Homo sapiens: one gene and its partners. The protein of the gene in region 2 interacts with the protein of the main gene of each other region in a pairwise test. Each region holds a gene or a part of one and is shown on either strand. Other genes may lie near its edges. The genes, in order: ZNF287, TMEM62 and LTA4H.

What was found.
Region 1: the proteins of TMEM62 (region 2) and ZNF287 interact in a two-hybrid assay, tested with the Homo sapiens proteins (one large-scale study listed by IntAct).
Region 3: the proteins of TMEM62 (region 2) and LTA4H interact in a two-hybrid assay, tested with the Homo sapiens proteins (one large-scale study listed by BioGRID and IntAct).

The regions. Positions count from the first base shown.
Region 1 is NC_000017.11:16,562,667-16,566,410, forward strand, and holds part of ZNF287 (zinc finger protein 287), read right to left. Parts: intron 1,160-3,744; coding exon 1,033-1,159; intron 567-1,032; coding exon 480-566; intron 1-479. UniProt on the Homo sapiens protein: May be involved in transcriptional regulation.
Region 2 is NC_000015.10:43,150,440-43,154,183, forward strand, and holds part of TMEM62 (transmembrane protein 62), read left to right. Parts: intron 1-1,350; coding exon 1,351-1,506; intron 1,507-3,468; coding exon of another isoform or gene 3,469-3,562; exon of another isoform or gene 3,563-3,744.
Region 3 is NC_000012.12:96,000,253-96,002,420, reverse strand, and holds the end of LTA4H (leukotriene A-4 hydrolase), read left to right. Parts: intron 1-1,314; coding exon 1,315-1,432; 3' UTR 1,433-1,668; downstream 1,669-2,168. UniProt on the Homo sapiens protein: Bifunctional zinc metalloenzyme that comprises both epoxide hydrolase (EH) and aminopeptidase activities. Acts as an epoxide hydrolase to catalyze the conversion of LTA4 to the pro-inflammatory mediator leukotriene B4 (LTB4).

The DNA of each region.
Region 1 (3,744 bases), on a different chromosome or scaffold from region 2:
TTTGAATCTTGTGAATATATTATCTTTTTAAATAATTAGAAAATAAAAAAGAAAGGGATGATTTAGAAAAGTGAAGGCAGGGGGATGTAGGGATTTGTCAGTGAACAGAATAAAAGAAACTCAAAAAGAAGAAGGTTTAACATTTAAATTTTTAGGGGGCATTCATACATGTTTAAATCTAGAGGAAGGGGAAAGTGGCACAATGAAAGCCCTAGACAAAGCTCTTAAGAGATGGGACCTAGAGGTCATGTAGAAGGATAAAATGAGAAGAGACACGGGAAAAGTGTGTTAACAGTGATGTTAGGAAGCTCTTCCTGAAGAGGCCTCTGTAAGGAAGCAATGCCAAACAGCTCAGTGTTCTTCACAGGCTAGAATGCCTTTGCAAAAAGTGACCTGGTCATATTTAAAATGCATTTCTCACCACATTTAGGATATAGATTCTTAAATACAAAGAAGCTCATGCGCTTTTTGTTTCTCACCTGGACTAGGGCCTTCTAAAATTTCTTTTATCACCATCCATGGTTCTTCCAATATGGGAATCACAGTTGGTCTGTACACTGTAAGTCCTGTTCAGGAGGAATATAAAGAATTTTATCCTGGAGATAAATGGTTGCTCAAAGTTTTATTACCAGACTTCTACCTATCTGGGAGAACAGACCTCTGTAGGAAAACAATAGTTCATGGACATGATCTAATAAGAGAATTAGGCTGTTGATTGTTATCCTTTCAGAGACAGGATAACAATTTCCTGCCACTGAAGAGGATATGTGAAGGAAGAAACATTCCCTTAGAGTAGCAAAGGCTGGGCAAGGCAGCATCAGGTGGCAGCACTATGAAGCTGTGCATCAGTTGCCAATGTTCTCTCACTTAAGAACCTTTCATTTGGAAAACGGGAGTAAAACAGTCACTTTCGTGCTTGAATGAGATAAGAACATTTATTTCTGGACCCCATTTTTAGCCAAGCATGTCTGAGGACCAACCCATTTTTAATGGGAACAGGCTCGGAGGAGGAGGGATGCAGATGATCCTTACCCAGAGAAACCATGTTCCAATAGTTCTGTAACGTCACAGTCTTGTATAATTCCTTCTGCACAGGACGCATTAACTCCCAGTCCTCCTGGGTGATGTCTACAGCCACATCTTTGAATGTCATCGATTCCTAAAATATCAAATGTAACTTAACTCAGTTCAAGAACTAATGGCAAAGGGGACACTGATAACACTGGGTATATGTATGGTGGGGGACTGTCACAGAATTTTAAGCTTTAGTAGGATCCTAGAAGTTGTCTAGTCAAAACCCTCCCCTGACATATGGACAGCCCTACAGCATCTCTCCATGACCCTAAACGGAAGTTTGAAAATAGATCAGAATTTATTTTCACTTAGCACTCATGCATGCATTGGTGGCAGCTCCATTTTAAACAGAAAAGGTTTATCATTACTATTTTTAAAAGAGACAGAGTCTCGCTCTGTTGCCTGTGCTGGACTAGTGCATGCATTGCTGGCAGCTCCATTTTTAAAAGGAAAAGGTTTATTATCATTATTTTTAAAAGAGACAGGGTCTTGCCTGGTCACCTGGACTGGAGTGCGATGGTACAATCATTGTTCACTGCAGCCTCAAACTCCTGGGCAGAAGTGATCCTCTCACCTCACCCTCCTGAGTAGCTAGGACTACAGGCACACACCACCACATCTGGCTAATTTTTAATTTTTTTTTGTAGAGATGGGGTTTTGCTATGCCACCCAGGCTGGTCTCAAACTCCTGAACTCAAGCGATCCTTCACCTCAGCTCCCCAAAGTGTTGGGATTACAGGAGTGATCCACCAGGCCTGACTTGAGTTTTAAATTTTAAACACAGATGACACAGTTGAATGGTTTTGCTTTTCAAGCTGTGCTTTAAGAATAAATCCAACATGTTATAATTAAAATGTTAAGATATTTTTATGTGTTCTATGGTTAAATTCAGTCTTTCTTTTTAAAAATATAACAGATACCAATAATCACAGTGTTGAACTGCTGCACTGTTAAATACATTTCACAATCTGGTAAGGTTAGTGCTTTTCTTGTTTGCTCCTTTTGTTAAAAATATAGTATTATCTTACATGTTTCTTTTTTCTCTTTTTTTATTTGAGAAAGAGTCTTGCTCTGTCGCCCAGGCTGGAGTGCAGTGGCCTCCTGAGTAGCTGGGATTACAGGTGCACGCCACCATGCCCAGCTAATTTTTGTATTTTTAGTAGAGACAGGGTTTTGCCATGTTGGCCAGGCTGGTCTCCAAACTCCTGACCTCAGGTGATGCAGCTGCCTTGGCCTCCCAAAGTGATAGGATGACAGGTGTGAGCCACTGCGCCTGGCCACGTGTTTATTTTTTCATATAATTGTCAGTATCTTTAAAAAAGTCATATTGGAGGCCAGGCGCAGTGGCTCATACCTGTAATCCCAGCACTTTGGGAAGCCAAGGCAGGAGGATCACTTTGAGGCCAGAAGTTTAAGACCAGCCTGGGCACATAGTGAGATCCCATCTCTTAAAAAATCTTTTCTTTTAAATCATACTGGGATTTAAAAATTGTATTAAGTTTATAACTTAGGGAGAACTGATGACTTTATAATATTCAAGGTTTCTTTCATGTTCTACAAAATATTAGACATGAAAGTACTGCAATATTTATATTATGCTTAGTTTTAGATATTTTAAATTTTTTTCGGGGGTGTGATACTGGAGGCATTTTTTTCATTTTATCATTTATCTCATTTTTATATGTATATATGTAGATATATATATAAGTATATATATGTAAGTGATTGATTTTTGCATGTCATTTTCTGTAGTCATTTTATCCAATTTTTCTATTAGTGTTTCTAACACTTTTTCCCTTGATTTTGTTAGGCTTTCCAGGTAAATGTTCACACTATCAATGAATAATCATTTTAACTTGGTTACCAAAAGCTTTCCAATTTCAGAAAAACCAGTTATATTTTTACAGTAAATCTTTCTCTTAAGGTATCTTGAGTTACTATTCTTTAAAATAATATAGACTCATGGCCGGGCGCGGTGGCTCACACATGTAATCCCAGCACTTTGGGAGGCCAACACGGGTGGATCACCTGAGGTCAGGAGTTCAAGACCAGCATGAGCAACATGGCGAAACCCTGTCTCTACTAAAAATACAAAAATTAGCCAGGCATGGTGGCATGCACCTGTAACCCCAGCTACTCCAGAGGCTGTGGCATGAGAATCACTTGAACCCAGGAGGTGGAGGCTGCCGTGGACCAAGATCGCACCACTGCACTCCAGCCTGGGCAACAGAGTGCGACTCTGTCTCAAAAAATATATATAAATTCATGACCAACAGTAATATGACAGAATGCATGGCCTTTAACTACTTGTTAATGAGGAAAAATAATAGTAACAATCATCTATTAATTGCTTAACTGTAATCCAGGCTAACTACAAGTCTCATAATATTTAATACTCACAACCTAAGAGGTAAATTCTATTTATGAGAGTAGAATAACTCAGGCTAAGAGAGGTTAAGTATCTTGTCCCAAATTGCAGTTCCAATGGTAGAGCCGGGAAACAAAACCTAAATCCATCTGGCTGTGGAGGTCAATCTCGTATTCTCTATGTGATATTGCTGACAAAGTCAAAGTAAGGAAAGACATATCAAGGGAAGGCAATGGAAGCACCTTTTCTTTATAGTACATTCACCTACCTTAACAGACCAAGATAACATAGGAGAGAAACTG
Region 2 (3,744 bases):
GGGTTTTATTTGGAGCGTACTCCAGATAAAAGGACCTAAACTTTACCTGCCCTTATAAACACTTAAATTGTGTTAGTTACAATAGAATAATTTTTAAAAACAGTATATTGGAAATATTAGGCTAGGCCTTGTTGTAGATGCAGATAAATCCAGAAATATCAGTGGCTTAACACAAATGTTTTTCATTTGTATAAATTCAATATGAGTCAGAACAACTCTTATCCATGGGATGAGTCAGTAATTCAGACTTCCTCCATCTTAAAATTCCTATTTCGACATGTCGATTCCAGGGCAGGGAAGAGAGCAAGGAGAACTCACACCCACTCTTAAGTACTTTGGACCACAGGCATGATATGTGTCACTTCTCTTCACAGCCCATTGGCCAAAACTAGTCACATGGTCCCAACCTGATACCAGGAGACTGGGAAATTCAGGGGAATGTGTAGAGAATTTCGTGAGCACTATTGTTTCTGCCATAGTGAATCATTTCTTTTTTTAGTTCTAAAAGTTAGAAAATATAAAACTTTGGTTATTCTTTAATGAATATTTTATACCTTTTGTTATTGCATTTGGAAAATGAAAACAACTTTAATTTCTTTGAAATTATAGAAATAAATGTTTAATGCTAGGCATGGTGGCTTACGCCTATAATCCCAGCACTTTGGGAAGCCAAGGTGAGGGGGATCACCTGCGGTCAGGAGTTCGAGACCAGCCTGGCCAACATGGTGAAACCCTATCTCTGCTAAAAATAGCCAGGTGTGGTGGCGGGCACCTGTAATCCCAGCTACTTGGGAGGCTGAGGCAGAGGTTGCAGTGAGCCAAGACTGCGCCACTGCACTCCAGCCTGGGTGACGGAGTGAGACTCCATCTCAAAAATAAGAAAAAAAAAAAAAAAAAAGAAAGAAAGGTTTAAAAGAAGCATGAAAGATTTCTAATTTTGTTCATATCAACCATTTTAATATTTTATGTAGCATTGTTGATGGGATGAAGAATGTCAAGTATTAGGGTTATAATAAATATTTTAGGTTCAAAATTGTCTTAAAGTACAGGGATAAGATGAGTTACTTCAACAAGTATTTATTTAAAAATTAAAGAGTACATGCCGTGTACCAGGTGTTGTTCAAGAGCACAGTTGAATCCATTGCCCAGTCAGAGGCAGTTATGTGACAAATGTGAAGGATAAAGTGATGGGGTAAGGGAAGAAAGAAAGAAAATATTACTTAATCTGTATTCAAATTAATCATGTAAAAAAGTCCTAGTTATGTATTTTTATATTTGTTCTGTATATTACCTTCATGACCTCTTACAATGTGAAGTGACTAAATTACCTTATCATTATCTGGTCTTTAGGTACCGGATTTTTGCTTTTGATCACGACCTCTTTAGCTTTGCAGATTTGATCTTTGGGAAGTGGCCTGTGGTTCTTATCACCAATCCTAAATCACTCCTTTATAGTTGTGGTGAACATGAACCACTAGAAAGACTTCTTCACTCAACACACATCAGGTATGTAGCAATTTTTTAGAATTTACTTTCAGTTTGATAATGAAGGAGAATAAGTCATTGTGATTGCATTCCCATGTGAAAGCTATGAGATGCCCCATTTTAGTTTTCTCAACAACCTAAACATTATATAAAGATAGATTGCTTACTGTTTTGTTTCCATTAAGTTAAAAAGCATATCATTTTTTTAAGCTGATGAAATTTTAAAAACCATTCAGAAATCTATAATTCTACCATTATTATTTTTGTTTTATTTTATTCCAGCCTTTTTATTTGGACGCTTTTACATTGCTATAAGCATAATGTACATATTCCTTTATAGTCTACTTTTTAAAATTTGCATTATATATCAAATTTTTTTTCATTTGTTATGTAGCCTTCTAAGAAAGCAAAAGCTATATATATAATCCTTATGGAATTGAAAATTCAGTTGGCAAATGAATTTGTTTTGTTTTGTTTTGTTTTGATTTTCGACAGAGTCTTGCTTTGTTGCCCGGGCTGGAGTGCAGTGGCCTGATCTTGGCTCACTGCAACCACTGCCTCCCGAGTTCAAGCTTTTCTCATGCCTCAGCCTCTGGAGTAGCTGAGATTACAGATGTGTGCCACCACGCCTGGCTAATTTTTGTATTTTTAGTAGAGAGAGGGTTTCACCGCGTTGGCCAGGCTGGTCTCGAACTCCTGACCTCAAGGGATCCGCCCTCCTACGCCTCCCCAAGTGCTGGGATTACAGGCTTGAACCACCATGCCTGGCCATGAATTTGATTATATAGATTAATAGAATCCAAATGGGACATTAACATTCTTTTTGCAAAGAGATATATAACTTGTTTCAAATGTAAGAGCACTTTTTAAAATATACTTTTACAATTTATTTTGAAAAGTAATACAATAGAACAACCTTTGGAAAATAGGGTAATGGGATTTTAAGTATGTTTTTCTCCACTTCTAATAGAACTATTATTAGCACTTCTGAGTATTTCTTCTCAGGCATTCTCTCTTAAGATGTTTTTATATAATTATAATCATAAGGCACAGTCTATTCTAATTCCTGATTTGTTTTCTTTCAGCACAAAGAATGTACCACAGTTTTTCTAACCATTTTCATATCTCATTGGTGAACTTTTAAGGTTTTTCTTATTTGTGGATGAATATCTGGTACATATATATTCTTCCTTCACTTGAATAATTTCTTTAAGAAAGAGTTCTAGAAGTGGGATTCTAGGTGAAAGAATTTGAATTCTTTTATGACTGTTGATAAAAATTGCTCAATCCCTTTTTTTTTGGAGCTAAAATCACTATTTTTAATCATGGTAAGCATGATTAAACAAAGTACACATGGCATAAAATGTACCATTTTAACCATTTTCAAGTGTACAGTTCAGTAGCATTAAGTTTGCTTCAAGTTTACATTGTTTTGCAACCATCACCATTATCCATTTCCAGAACATTTATCATTTTCTAAAACTGAAACTTTTACCCATTAAACAATAACTTCCTGTTCTTCCCTCTCCCACAGCCCCTGGCAACCACCAATCTACTTTCTGTCTCTATGAATTTGACTACTCTAGCTAACTCATATAAGTGGAACCATTCAATATTTATACTTTTGTGACTGGCTTATTTTCATTTAACATGATGTCTTCAAGGTTTATACATGTTGTGGCATATGTCAGAATTTCCTTCCTTTTAAAGGCTGAATAATGTTCCATTGTACATTGTGTGTGTGTGTGTGTGTGTGTGTGTGTATATACACACATATGTATACACACATACACACATACCACATTTTGTTTATGTGTTCAATGGACACTTGGGTTGCTTCTAACTTTTGGCTATATTGAATAACGCTTCTATGAATATGAGTGTACAGATAACGGTTCAAGTCCCTGCTGTCACTTCTTTTAGATATATATCCAGAAGTGGAATTGCTGGATCATATGGTAATTATCTGTTTAATTTTTTAAGGAGCTGCCATACTGTTTTCCATGGTGGCTGCACCATTTTACATTCCCACCAGCAGTGTATCAGGTATCCAATTACTTTCAACAACAGATGCTAATTTATCATATTACCAAGCAATATGAATGCCAAATTCACAATACTCTTATTATTATTGGATATTATGCTTTAAAAAGTATTTACTAATTAACTTGTAAAAAATGGTACCAAGATGTTTACATTTATTGTTTTCATCACTAATGAAATGGAACACACATGTGTCAGTCAGGTTTTTTGGTGGGA
Region 3 (2,168 bases), on a different chromosome or scaffold from region 2:
TAAATATCCATGATTACTTTTGTTTGCTTTTCATTTACTTCACAAGTATTTAGGTGGGTGCAAAAGTAATTGCAGTTTTGGCCATCAAAAGTGATGGCCATATAATATCATAAAACTTGGCAAAATAAGTCATTATCTCTTTTTTGATGTGACCACAAAATTAAGTTTTAAGTATATTTTATATGCTTTCCCTAATTAAAACCCATCTAGCTTTGAATTGAGTAAAGTATACTTTAAATAGGTTTTTAAATAAGAGTATACTTGGGCCGGGCGCGGTGGCTCACGCCTGTAATCCCAGCACTTTGGGAGGCCAAGGCAGGCAGATCACGAGGTCAGGAGTTTGAGACCAGCCTGGCTAACATAGTGAAACCCTGTCTGTACTAAAAATACAAAAAATTAGCCAGGTGTGGTGGTAGGCACCTGTAATCCTAGCTACTTGGGAGGCTGAGGCAGGAGAATCGCTTGAACCCGGGAGGCAGAGGTTGCAGTGAGCTGAGATTGCGCCATTGCTCTCCAGCTCCTCCAGCCCGGGTGACAGTGCGAGACTCTGTCTCAAAAAAAAAAAATGAATAAAATAAATAAGAGTATACCTTTTGTGGGAAAAATAAGTATTTCTGTTTTATGATGTTTATAGTAGTTACATTAAAAATGACTAATCCTACCTTTTGTATGGTAGGTCCTTTTTATTTAGTGTATTTATTATTTATTTCGTGTATTATTTATTATGTATTTATTATTTCACTGTGGTCAGGACTTTTATTCTCAATTATTTGAAGTTTTCAGAAATTCTATATAAATTTTAGTGTTTTCATACTCTTAAAATCTTGATTAAAAAATTTTTTTTAAAAGCAGTTTTTAAAAAGAAAGGCTTTGAGGCTCACTCTCACATACAGGGCTGATATTTAGCCAGGAGATGAGAGGACTCTGTTCAAATAATAAAATCCTTCCATGCTGCTTGGTAAATAGCCACGGGTCCCAGCCACTCTAGCCCTTCCCTGTAACTTGCTGCAAAATGTCTGATCTGCCAGTATAAAGGCCAGTCTCTGGTACAGAAGGAGGTCTCTGGGACCCTGTGGCAGGACCATACCCATCTGATTGGCTGGGACTGGTGCCTTATTTGGGTGATGCTGGCTGTCACCCCTGCTGACATCCTTTAATTTAATCTTGGGTATTGACTTGTGTTCTTATTCTCTTTCTCCTTCCTTTTTCCTTTCCTCTGAACCCCTTCCCTCCTTTCTTTCTTCTCTCCCTCCCTTTCTCCTCCTCTGTCTCCTTCTCGCCTTTCTTTCTTTTCAATTTTTTCTTTTTTGGCAGGGATCTTGCTGCCTTTGACAAATCCCATGATCAAGCTGTCCGAACCTACCAAGAGCACAAAGCAAGCATGCATCCCGTGACTGCAATGCTGGTGGGGAAAGACTTAAAAGTGGATTAAAGACCTGCGTATTGATGATTTTAGAGATTTCTCTTTTTTAAATGGAATTCGTAAAGAAATATAAAACTTCAGCTCACAATTAAAACTGTCTTTTTAGTTTTGGCTTTTTATTGTTTTGTTGGTGATTTTACTGAAATAAAGTTGAGCTACTTCTTCTTATAGTGGCATATTCTTTGTAAATTTTAACAAGGTTTAATCTTTTGATTTACAAATTAAAAAATTTTGAATTAGCTTTATATTAATTTTCTCTCAGTATGATCACAAAATATGTCAAGGTAGTATTTTACCTGATATATGATTTAAATTCATTAATTTGAATCTGCTGCAGATTCAAAAATTCAACATGGTTAGGATTTTGCTTTGCTTTTTAAATAACCTTAAACATAAGTCCGGGCGCAGTGGTTCATGCCTGTAATCCCAGCACTTTGGGAGGCCAAGGCGGGTGAATCACCTGAGGTCAGGAGTTTGAGACCAGCCTGGCCAACATGGTGAAACCCCGTCTCTACTAAAAATACAAAAATTAGCTGGGCGTGGAGGCACGACTGTAATTCCAGCTACTCAGGAGGCTGAGGGAGGATAAGCACTTTAATCTGGGAGGCAGGGGTTGTAGTGAGCCGAGATGGCGCCATTGCACTCCAGCCTGGGCAATGGAGACTCTGCCTCGAAAAATAAAAAATTAAAAAAAAACCTTAAACATGAATGCTTAGTTGTATTTGCACACCACCTACCTGGTGGA